3 linked regions of the Homo sapiens genome follow. The protein of the gene in region 2 purifies or fractionates together with the protein of the main gene of each other region. This does not show direct contact. Each region holds a gene or a part of one and is shown on either strand. Other genes may lie near its edges. The genes, in order: SPTBN4, TIMD4 and SERPINB9.

The links.
Region 1: the proteins of TIMD4 (region 2) and SPTBN4 purify together in Homo sapiens (affinity purification with mass spectrometry; one large-scale study listed by BioGRID and IntAct). This does not show direct contact.
Region 3: the proteins of TIMD4 (region 2) and SERPINB9 purify together in Homo sapiens (affinity purification with mass spectrometry; one large-scale study listed by BioGRID and IntAct). This does not show direct contact.

What each region holds. Positions count from the first base shown.
Region 1 is NC_000019.10:40,567,914-40,571,565, forward strand, and holds part of SPTBN4 (spectrin beta chain, non-erythrocytic 4), read left to right. Parts: coding exon 1-369; intron 370-1,743; coding exon 1,744-1,813; intron 1,814-2,522; coding exon 2,523-2,815; intron 2,816-3,652.
Region 2 is NC_000005.10:156,918,671-156,922,040, reverse strand, and holds the end of TIMD4 (T-cell immunoglobulin and mucin domain-containing protein 4 isoform 1 precursor), read left to right. Parts: intron 1-1,537; coding exon 1,538-1,577; intron 1,578-2,499; coding exon 2,500-2,584; 3' UTR 2,585-2,749; downstream 2,750-3,370. UniProt on the Homo sapiens protein: Phosphatidylserine receptor that plays different role in immune response including phagocytosis of apoptotic cells and T-cell regulation.
Region 3 is NC_000006.12:2,896,771-2,900,422, reverse strand, and holds part of SERPINB9 (serpin B9), read left to right. Parts: intron 1-366; exon of another isoform or gene 367-507; intron 508-1,303; exon of another isoform or gene 1,304-1,394; intron 1,395-2,353; exon of another isoform or gene 2,354-2,482; coding exon of another isoform or gene 2,483-2,497; intron 2,498-3,652. UniProt on the Homo sapiens protein: Granzyme B inhibitor.

The sequences.
Region 1 (3,652 bases), on a different chromosome or scaffold from region 2:
GGAGATCCCGGGGAGGGTGGAGCCCGCGGCCCTGCCGGCCGCACCAGAGGACGCGGCGGAGACCCCCGCGACCCCCGCGGCGGCGGAGCAGGTGCGGCCACGACCGGAGCGCCAGGAGTCAGCTGATCGCGCGGAGGAGCTGCCCAGGAGGCGGCGGCCTGAGCGGCAAGAGTCAGTCGATCAATCCGAGGAGGCTGCGCGGAGGCGGCGGCCGGAGCGGCAGGAGTCAGCGGAGCACGAGGCGGCACACAGCCTTACCCTGGGCCGCTATGAGCAGATGGAGCGGCGGCGCGAGCGGCGTGAGCGGCGCTTGGAGCGGCAGGAGTCCAGCGAACAGGAGATGCCCATCAGAGGAGACCTGGTCAAGGGGTGAGGTGCCCGCCTTATGACCAGAAAGTGAGGGGAGGGGAAAGCGGAGAGCTCCTAGAACCCCTCAGGCCCAGTGAAAGGGCTTCAGGGCTCAGAACTTCCCAAAGAAGGAGATATCGCCGCGGTACCCATTTTGCAGAGGTGTAAACTGAAGCTGCAAGATAATCGATGTGCCCATTGTTACACAGAAAGGGGAGCCCTTCCTGTTGAAAGAAAAGGCAGACTGCCTTTCTCCAGACGTAGGTTCTCGGCCCCTGGGTTGTGACTCCTGCATCAAGTCTCCCGGGTGCCCCGAGGCAGGGATTTTGTCCTCTCTGTGCCTCAGTTTGCCCACTGGGCTAATGGTGGAACCCTCACCTCCTTGATTGGAGAGGAGACCCTTTATCACAATTCTCTCAGCAGCCTTATGAAGTGGGGGCTGTTGTCTTCTCCATTGTATGACTAGGGCAACTGAGGCACAAAAAGGGCAAGTCACTCAGCTTAAACGAACCAGGACTTTCAGAATCCAGAGTTGGCCAGTGTGTGTTGTGCAGATCTGTCCAGTCAGCTGAGTGTGTCTCCAGAAAGAGGCCTTTGGTCAGGAGACAATGACTTCTTGATTCTTTTTAAATTGCACATTTCATGAACATTTGCTGAGTGCCCACTCTGCCTGGCATGTGCTGAGTCGAGCGGTGACTGAACCAGTCCCATCCCTGACTTTAGAGACTCACAGTCCATTGGGAAAAACAGGCTTGTCATCAATGATGACCGAGAATTATCTGGGCTGGAATGGGGGCGATTGGGGGACTGGAGAGTCAGGGGTGGGTGGAGAAAGGCAACGTTTGCAAGTTGTTCTTTGTGCTGCTTAAAATTCAAAGGGGCATCTGGGCGCGGTGGCTCACGCCTGTAATCTCAGCACTTTGGGAGGTTGAGGCGGGCAGATCACTTGAGGTCAGAAGTTCGAGACCAACCTGGCCAATATAGCAAAACCCTGTCTCTACTAAAAATGCAAAAATTAGCCGGCATGGTGGCGCACGCCTGTAGTACCAGCTACTTGGGAGGCTGAGGCAGGGGAATCGCTTCAACACAGGAGGCAGAGGTTGCAGTGAGCCGAGATCATGCACCACTACACTCCAGCCTGGGCAACAGAGAAAGACTCCGTCTCAAAAAAAAAAAAAAAAAAATTCAAAGGGGCGAGAGGTTTGGTCTTCCATTCAGCAGACACGTCCCAAACACCTGTGGTACCTAAGGCGAGCATCTGAGAGAAACAGCTGCAGAAGTGGGCAGGGGCCTGGCACTTCCAGCTAAGAAGTGGAGGCTCCTCTGCCCAGCCAGACAGGTCCATGGGAGAAGGAACCCTGGTTTCACTGGGTCTTTCTGTCCCCCATCCCCCAGGAAGGCCACCCTGGCTGACATTGTGGAACAGCTGCAGGAGAAAGAGGCAGGCCCAGGGCTGCCTGCTGGGGTAAGTTGAGCCTCGGATGGGTGGGGATAGGAGGACCCCTTTTTCAGAGCAGGAGGCAGGATCTCAGAAACAGCCAGTGCCTAGCCCTGGCAGGACCCATTCCCTACCTGGACCCTGCAGAGACAGCATGGACTCTCAGGGTCCCCAGAATCTGAAAATGTCCCCCTTAGAAAGACGGGGCACCTACCTAAGAGACCCCTACTGCCCCTCCACACACACACACACACACACACACACACACACACACAGACACACACACACAGACACACACACACAGACACACAGACACAGATACACACACAGACACACACACACAGACTCTTCCCACATCTGTCCTGGACTCCGTATTTCTTCAGCTCAGTGGGGTCCCAAATTTCTTCATAGCCTCATACACACACACACAGAAGGAAGCCCCAGGTTTCTCCTGCAGACAGTGGGGACACGCCCTGCTTGCACCCCCACCTCCAGAGATCTGGCTGCCTCTTTCCACCACCGAGAGAGATTCCAAACCAATGAGTCCTAACAGACTCACTCCCAAGACCCATGGGGCCCTAAGAATTGGGCCTCCAACCCTGAGGTCCTCCCATACTCGCCTCCGAGACAAATGGCCCTGTAGACAGATGGGACCCCAGACCCATGACTCCCCCAAACAGATGACCCCCACACCCTCTCCATGGACAGCACCCCTCTTCCCCCTCCCTTCACACAGCCGTCGCTGCCTCAGCCACGCGAGCTTCCCCCAGGTCGCCTGCCCAACGGGCTTGAGCTGCCCGAGCGGACACCTCGGCCGGACCGGCCCCGGGCGCGGGACCGGCCCAAGCCGCGACGGCGGCCGCGGCCCAGAGAGGGTGGTGAGGGCGGGGGAAGCCGGCGCTCGCGCTCCGCCCCGGCCCAGGGCGGCTCCGCCCCCGCGCCTCCGCCACCGCCCACTCACACAGTGCAGCACGAGGGCTTCCTACTGCGCAAGCGCGAGCTCGACGCTAACCGCAAGTCGTCCAACCGGTGAGCGTGTGGGCGGGGCTTTGGAAGGCGGGTCTCAGGCTCAGGGTGACCATTGCGTGGAGCGGTGGGACTGAGGAGGGGGTGTGGCTCAACTTCAGGCCCTCCAGCAGGTGGCGGTAGTAGGTGGGGCCAGAGCTGGGGGGTGGTGGTGGCTTAAATCAAGAAAGCCAACCAATGAGCAGGAGGGGGTGTGGTTTAACGTCAGGCCCTCCAACCCGTGGGGGTAGTAGGTGGGGCCAGATGAGGGGTGGGGCTCAACTTTGATGATTCCAACCAATGAACAGGAAGGGGCAGGACCTAAGGTTAGTGCATCTAATGGATGATGGGTAGAGCTTAGGTGGGAACAGAAGGAAAATGTTCTGAAAGTGAGTAAATTGGAACCTAACCTCTTAGCAACCAACCCAGGAGTTGATCAGCTAAATAGCAAAGAGGGAGGCATCTAGTTGAGAAGGTTTCAATGGCTTGTCGTGGAGCTTGGAGAGGTCACTCAACCAATGAGTGGGGTGGGTCTACCCTTGAAGTTTCAAATTGGGGGAGGGTCCGAAAACGGGCAGAGCCCAAACTAATGAGGGTAGGGGTTGGGAAGGGGGAGTCATCTCTTACAGGTTTCCAAATGAGGGTCTAGCCATGATGTGCCTGCTCTTGGGGAGTCCAGCTCCTGCTTGTCCACCCTCTTTTTGTCCAACTGAGAGGCAGAATCTGGGGACAAGTGGAGCCAAAAAGGGGTATCACCGGCCAGTAATGGAGTGAGTCCCAAGATATGAAGTGGGCAGGACAGATTCAGATTTTGCTAGTGGAATCTGTAGGTGGTCTTTCTTCCTCGTACCTAATGCCAAG
Region 2 (3,370 bases):
CTGGAGTTGTCTCCACTTCCTTCCCCTTTATCCCTCCCCAAAGAGGCTCAGTTCTGCCATTGTTCCCATCCCAGCCAGGGAAGTAACAGGTAAGTTCATTCTCCCCAAGCTGCTAATGACTCTGTGTATTAACCTCCTGGTAGAGTTTACGTTTTGGAAAAGGAAAAAAAGCAGAAGAGCACCTTCATTTATTGGACATTTCTGTGCCAGTCCTGATGGTATACTCTTGATGTGCCTAATTCATTTTATCCCTATTACTGCCTTAAGAGGAAAGTACTATTTCCTACTTTGTTCACTTTCTCTGTTCTTTGGTTGGGAAAACCCTAGCTTGTCTCTTCTTTTGGCTAGGATTGTTGCAGGACGAAGACCATGAACAATCCTGGTTTTCTTCTTCTTTTTTTTTTTTTTTTTTTTTTTTTTTTTTGAGAGAGTCTCATTCTGTTGTCCAGGCTGGAGTGCAGTGGCGTGATCTCAGCTTACTGCACCTCCGCCTCCTGGGTTCAAGTGATTCTCCTGCCTCAGCCTCCTGAGTAGCTGAGACTACAGGTTCACGCCATCACACGGGACTAATTTTTGTATGTTTAGTAGGAGGGGGTTTCACCATGTGGGCTAGGTTGGACTCAAACTCCTGACCTCAGGTGATCCACCCACTTTAGCCTCCCAAAGCTCTGGGATTACAGGCATGAGCCACCATGCCTGGCGTGATCCTGGTTTTCTTATATGTTCCCTAAAAGCAAGCTTTCTTAACCTGGAGGCCACAGATGGACTTCAAGGGTAATGTGAATCCTTTGAAATCACATGCAAAAGTGTTTATGTGTTCATGCCTGCATTTTTCAGGGGACAAGGTCTGTAGTTTTCATTAAGTTAGCAAGCTGCTCCATGACCTTGCACCTCCATCCCACCCCTGCCCCCCGCCCCCAAAAGTTTTAAAATGCTACAAAAACAGCCATGAAACAGCTTATGGTTTTCAGGCAAATTATAGGCACGTGGCACCTGGTACTGTTGTAAAATGGGGATAAATTGTTCTGTACTCATTAACAAAAGCTGTTTCAGGGCAGTATGTCAGGAGATGAGACTAGTAACCATCTCAGCTGATTTGAATAATAATGAAACTTGTATATTTCAACACCTGCCCCAGGTGCAAAAGCAAATTTAAAATTTACTGGAATCCTGCTGTTAGCCTTCATACAAAGGCATGATTACAGTTTTGGAAAATTCTGAGTATGTCTCGTAAAGAAGTGTTTTGAAACCCAAGTGAGTGCTTGAATTCTGGATAGGCAGATGACTCAGAATGAAATAGCTTAACACCATTGCCCAGAATGTTGGAACAACTTGGTAATTGATGAGCACTAACTGTGGTTAAAATAGCAAGTGTTTGACCTGGGAAAGGGAATGGCTTTTTCTGCCAAAGCCAGCCACTGGTTCTCACCTTTGGCCCATATCTGCTCTTTGCGGGGCAGCACTGGAATTCCCCCAGCATTTTGCATGTTCTATGCACCGCAGCCACTCTGCTCACACTGTGGCCTTGTCTTTTCAGGGAAACTCATGGAAACCTATTGTTCGCAGAAACACACAAGGTAATCTATCTTGCATGAATGGGTGTTGTAATGATTGTACAAGCTGTTACAAATGATTAGCTACTACTCAGTGGTTTAATGACTTGAGCTTGTGTTACGATTACACATAGAGTTGGAAAGATGTGACATTAGAAGTGAAAAAGTTGTGCAGATTTAGCTCACATTAACCTGTGTCTTGGTTAACACTCTGAGCAAAATGCCAGTACCAAGGCAGGTGGGATTAATAGAAGTATAGCACGCAAAAGAAAGAAGGTGATATGGCACTTTACTCTGAAATTTTTTGTTCACCTATGGGTAAGTTAGTTTAAGAGGCCATTGTTAAACTGGAGTTTATTGAGGAGCGTTGGCAATATGGAAAATGAAAAAAGCATGTAGAATATTATTCCTGGGAGTTGGTTCCTCTGCCCAGTTAGACCATGGAAGCAGCTTGTTTTGGGGCCTTTTTAAAAATAGTATTTGAAGATTCTCTAGTAAGGGATTTTAGCTATTTGCCCTATTCTATAGCTTTTGGAAAAGAAATTTTTAAAAAAGGCATAAATTATTAATGAAGTCCTTGCCTAATTAATTGCATTCACTAATTAGTTGCATTAATACCACAATATGTATTAGCAAGAAGGAAAATTGACACCCAGCGAGGTGACCTTTCAAGGTCACACTTAGAGACCTTTTGGTAAATAAACGTATTGAAATCATGATTTTATATTTTGCTAAGAATCTTTTTTATCTCATTATAATGGATTGGCAGAAACTCTTTTTCCCCTGCAGCCTCAGTTTTCCCATCTGTAAAATGTGGAGCTTAGACTAAATGAACTGTGAGCCCTTTGAACTTTAAGGGTAATTGCACTGTAACTTAGCAGCATCTGTTTTGTTTTGTTTTCTAGTCTTGTGTTTCCCATTATGAGCCCCTCTTTTCTGTTTACAGGCTAGACTACATTGGAGATAGTAAAAATGTCCTCAATGACGTGCAGCATGGAAGGGAAGACGAAGACGGCCTTTTTACCCTCTAACAACGCAGTAGCATGTTAGATTGAGGATGGGGGCATGACACTCCAGTGTCAAAATAAGTCTTAGTAGATTTCCTTGTTTCATAAAAAAGACTCACTTATTCCATGGATGTCATTGATCCAGGCTTGCTTTAGTTTCATGAATGAAGGGTACTTTAGAGACCACAACTTCTCTGTCCATGCTCTAATCATCTCTGTAGAATCACCGCTAAGTGATCTTTCACAGTACACTTGAACACTTTCAGTGACAGTGAACTCCTTACCACACGCAAGGGAGTCCATTCAATCTCAGAGCAGTTCTGAGATTAAGAAATATTTATAGCAAAATCTGTCTCCGGATGACATCTGCCCATAGGTCATAGTTGAGCTCCTTATGCCTATCAGAACATCTCCTTTATTAACTGCCGGATCAGTGTTGTGTGAACTAACAGGACAAAAAATCTATAGGCTCCATCAGTCAATAAGACTGATTTTTTTTTTTCTCTCTTAAAGGTAATGTCAAGAGAGTAGAAATCCAAAAGATGGTTACCTTTGGAGAAACATGTGCTTATTCCATTAATGTTGCTATTGCTCTAAGCATGCTGGGAAGTACTGGAGAGCTGTTAACTCTTCAGGTATTAGAAGGAGAATCTCATGTTTCTCCAAATTTCCTTGCTTCTGGGATACAATTTCTGGTTCTTTTGTTACCCTAATTGCCTTCATCTCGTATGGATTCGTATCTCTCCTTTTATGCCCAGCTTTCAGAGTTCATTGTCTCACTGCAGGTATGATATGAGCAGCACAGAGCCT
Region 3 (3,652 bases), on a different chromosome or scaffold from region 2:
GAGCAGGGACTGGCCTGGGCTGCGTGTTCTGTCACCAGCTTCACACTCACACTCCAGAGCCACTGAGAAAGGAGGGCAGGACTGGGGCCCGAGTGTGCACTGGCCGTTTCAGGGAGGCGGGGTCCACTGGGGAAGAAGTGGGGCAGGGCAGGGAGGCAGGAACTCTGCTCCACCGAGATTTATTTGGGGGAAACTTTCCTCGGTTAATCCCTTGGAAAAGACCATCCAAGCTGTCTTGTCCTAGCGCAGAATCTTTCTTTAGAAAATGACACTGAAATTATTTGAAACATAAGTTGCAAAGAACTACCTCTTTTTTGGAGCAAGAGACTTTGTAACTAAACTTTCATTGGTAAGGAAGGTTAATACCTGTTTCAAGTTGTTTCTGTACCAACAGCTCAGGGAGGGCATCAACAGAAATTTGCAAGAAGGATTCCAGGGCAAGTGCTTCATTACAGCTGCACACTGTGCAGGTACTGCTCAGCTCAGTCTCACCAACATTCAGAGAACCTGTGGAAATGATTCAAGATCAGTGCTTGTCCCCAGACCTTTGTGGAAAGGAGAGGAGACATACACGTGAGATGAAACCGAAAAGCGCCATCCCTGAGTGCAGGCCGCTGGACACGCCTTCATCATGGGAGTTGTCCTTTGTTCAATATGACTGTCTTTTTCTTTGATGACGCTTTTCAATAGTGAATTACTCATTTTAATAATTTCCCAGCTCATTGTGTGAAGAAGGGAGGGTTTATGTGTAAAGGCTACCAGCCTTAATAATAAGCACAGAGAGGCTCTCTAAAAGATATATATATTTGGAAATAGGGCATTGCAATGAAAATACGCATGCCATGGCAAGCTATGTGCACATTCAGGGAGGTGAAATAACACTAAGATTTTTAAAGGAAAAAGTAAAGAGGATTACATAATTCCTTTGAAATAATTATTTTTGGCAAAAAGATCAATAACGAAGGTGATGTCAGTGTGAGGTTGGATGGGGAGTTCCTGGGTAGATGTCCTTGCACAAGTATTTTGTTGTGTAAGGCTGTGATGGCCTTTGTGCAAGAGCGTAGGTTTTTAGAGTCCTTTGTGATAGTTGTGTTATCAGGCATTCAAGCGTGAGAACCCTCTCTTCATGGCCTTCCCTGTCTGTTTGTCAAAGGTTTTTGGTTTTGTTTTTTTAATATTAGTGACTCCATTTTGATTCTGAAGTTCCTTATGCTGAAATCTGTATGATCTTTTTCTATGTTTTAGGCTCACTGATAAACCCTTATAGAAAGCTTTTTTGAGAGCACCAAAATTGTCTGGGTACCTTCTTAGGTGTGAGACTGAGCTCTCTCCATGGCTCCAGTGTTCAACTGGATGCTTGTGAGACACCAAACATACTGAGTACACGTTGCTACCTGTAACATGCAGGGAAGCGTTAATGGCAGCAGAAATATTTTAAAGAATTATTTATTTTTCCTTCATTATATAACTGGTAAAAGTCCACTATAAAAATTTTTAAAAAATAAAAGTAGAAGGGAGGAAAAAATCCCTATGAATCCATCAAACAGAGACAACCACCCTTGATAATGTAAAGCATCTTCCTCCAGTCCTATTTCTTTTTTTTTTTTTCGAGACAGAGTCTTGCTCTGTCGCCCAGGCTGGAGTGCAGTGGTGCGATCTCAGCTTACTGCAAGCTCCACCCCCCGAGTTCACACCATTCTTCCACCTCAGCCTCCCGAGTAGCTGGGACTACAGGTGCCCGCCCCCACGCCCAGCTAATTTTTATTTTTAGTAGAGACAGGGTTTCACTGTGTTAGTCAGGATGGTCTCGATCACCTGACCTCGTGATCCACCCGCCTTGGCCTCCCAAAGTGCTGGGATTACAGGCGTGAGCCACTGCGCCCGGCCCTATTTCCTGATTTTCACTTGACATTTTGTACTTTGGTGATTATATGGTATCTTTACTTTTATAAATGATTTTTCAGCTAATGTGAGGATTCGGTGAGACAGTCCATGTAAAGCAAGTGCTCAACATGTGTTGGCTATGAATAGTAATAGTGGTGTCACAGCCTCAGGTGAAATTGGTCTTAGCTTTTGGTTCTGTTCTATTTGACAGGGTTTCTCATCAACAGTCTATGAGCTGTCTAAAGTAAATTTAGTAGCTTCCTCTTTTTTCTATGTTATAGAACAGTGTGTATTGCATGAGAAATAGAAATTGCTTGAATATTAGAAAAAAAAATCCCTCAAAAGATCATCTAAGCCTTTTTAGAAGTAATTCTCTCTCTCCCTCTTATTTTTTTTTTGTTCATTCATTGTGACTGATAGATTCTGTTTTTTGTTTGTTTTGTTTGTTTTGTTTTGTTTTTTGAGATAGAGTCTCTGCTCTGTCACCCAGGCTGGAGTGCAGTGGTGCTATCTCAGCTCACTACGACCTCCAACTCCCGAGTTCAAGTTCACGTGATTCTCCTGCCTCAGCCTCCCGAGTAGCTGGGATTACAGGCACATGTCACCATGCCTGGCTAGTATTCATATTTTTGACTGGCATTTGGTAACTTATAATCTGTACTTTACTGAAAATAATTATATAGAGTTTTTGTTTTAACATTCCCTTTGTTTATATTGCTGTAACCTCTTTTTCACATATAACTTTACTTTGGGGTGCTTTTTCTTACATGTGGTGGGTGGCTGTCTGTTTTGTATGTATGTGTGTTTTCTTTTAAAGAACCAGCTCTTGGATTCATTGATCATTTTGTGTTTGTCCCAAAATTCCTTGGGAGTTTTTCTGTATCTTTTCTAACATAATGATTTTAAAGTTTTAGCATTTTATTACTTTCTTGGTAATATTGAAAACAATGCTATGTTTTAACTTATCTTTGGCCAAACTCTTTGGTCTAATATATATCACCCATATTTTGATTATTTTCTAAATCATATGTCATATACTTATTTAGAAGAATTTGTTTGTTTGTTTGTTTTTTGAGAAGGAGTCTTGCTCTGTTGCCCAGGCTGGAGTGCAGTGGTATGACCTTGGCTCACTGCAACTTCCGCCTCCTGGGTTCAAGTGATTCTCCTGCCTCAGCCTCCCAAGTAGCTGGGATTACCAGCAAGCATCACCACACCCGGCTAATTTTCGTATTTTTAGTAGAGACAGGATTTCGCCATCTTGGCCAGGCTGGTCTTGAACTCCTGACCTCAAGTGATCTGCCCGCCTCGGCCCCCCAAAGTGCTGGGATTACAGGCATGAGCCACTGTGCCCAGCCTAGAAGAATATTTTAAATATTTGTTTAGAAGAGGATTTTTTGTGTTTTTTTTTTTTTTTTGACATGGTCTTGCTCTGTCTCCTAGGCTGGAGTGCAGCAGCTTGATCATAGCTCACTGCAGCCTCAAAGTCCTGGGCTCCAGCAATCCTCCCATCTCAGCCTTCCAAGTAGCTGGGACCACAGGCACACACCATCATGCCCAGCTAAGTGGAGATGGGATCTTGCAATGTTGCCCAGGCTAGCCTCAAACTCTTGGGCTCAAACAATCCTCCTGCCTTGGCCTCCAAAAGTGCTGGGATTATAGGCATGAGCCACTGTGCCTGGCCTAGAAAAGTATTTTAATTTTTACTTTGAAGAGTTAATTATTTAGAAAAGTGTTTTCAGTAATATTTTGTAGGTGATTTTCATTTTGT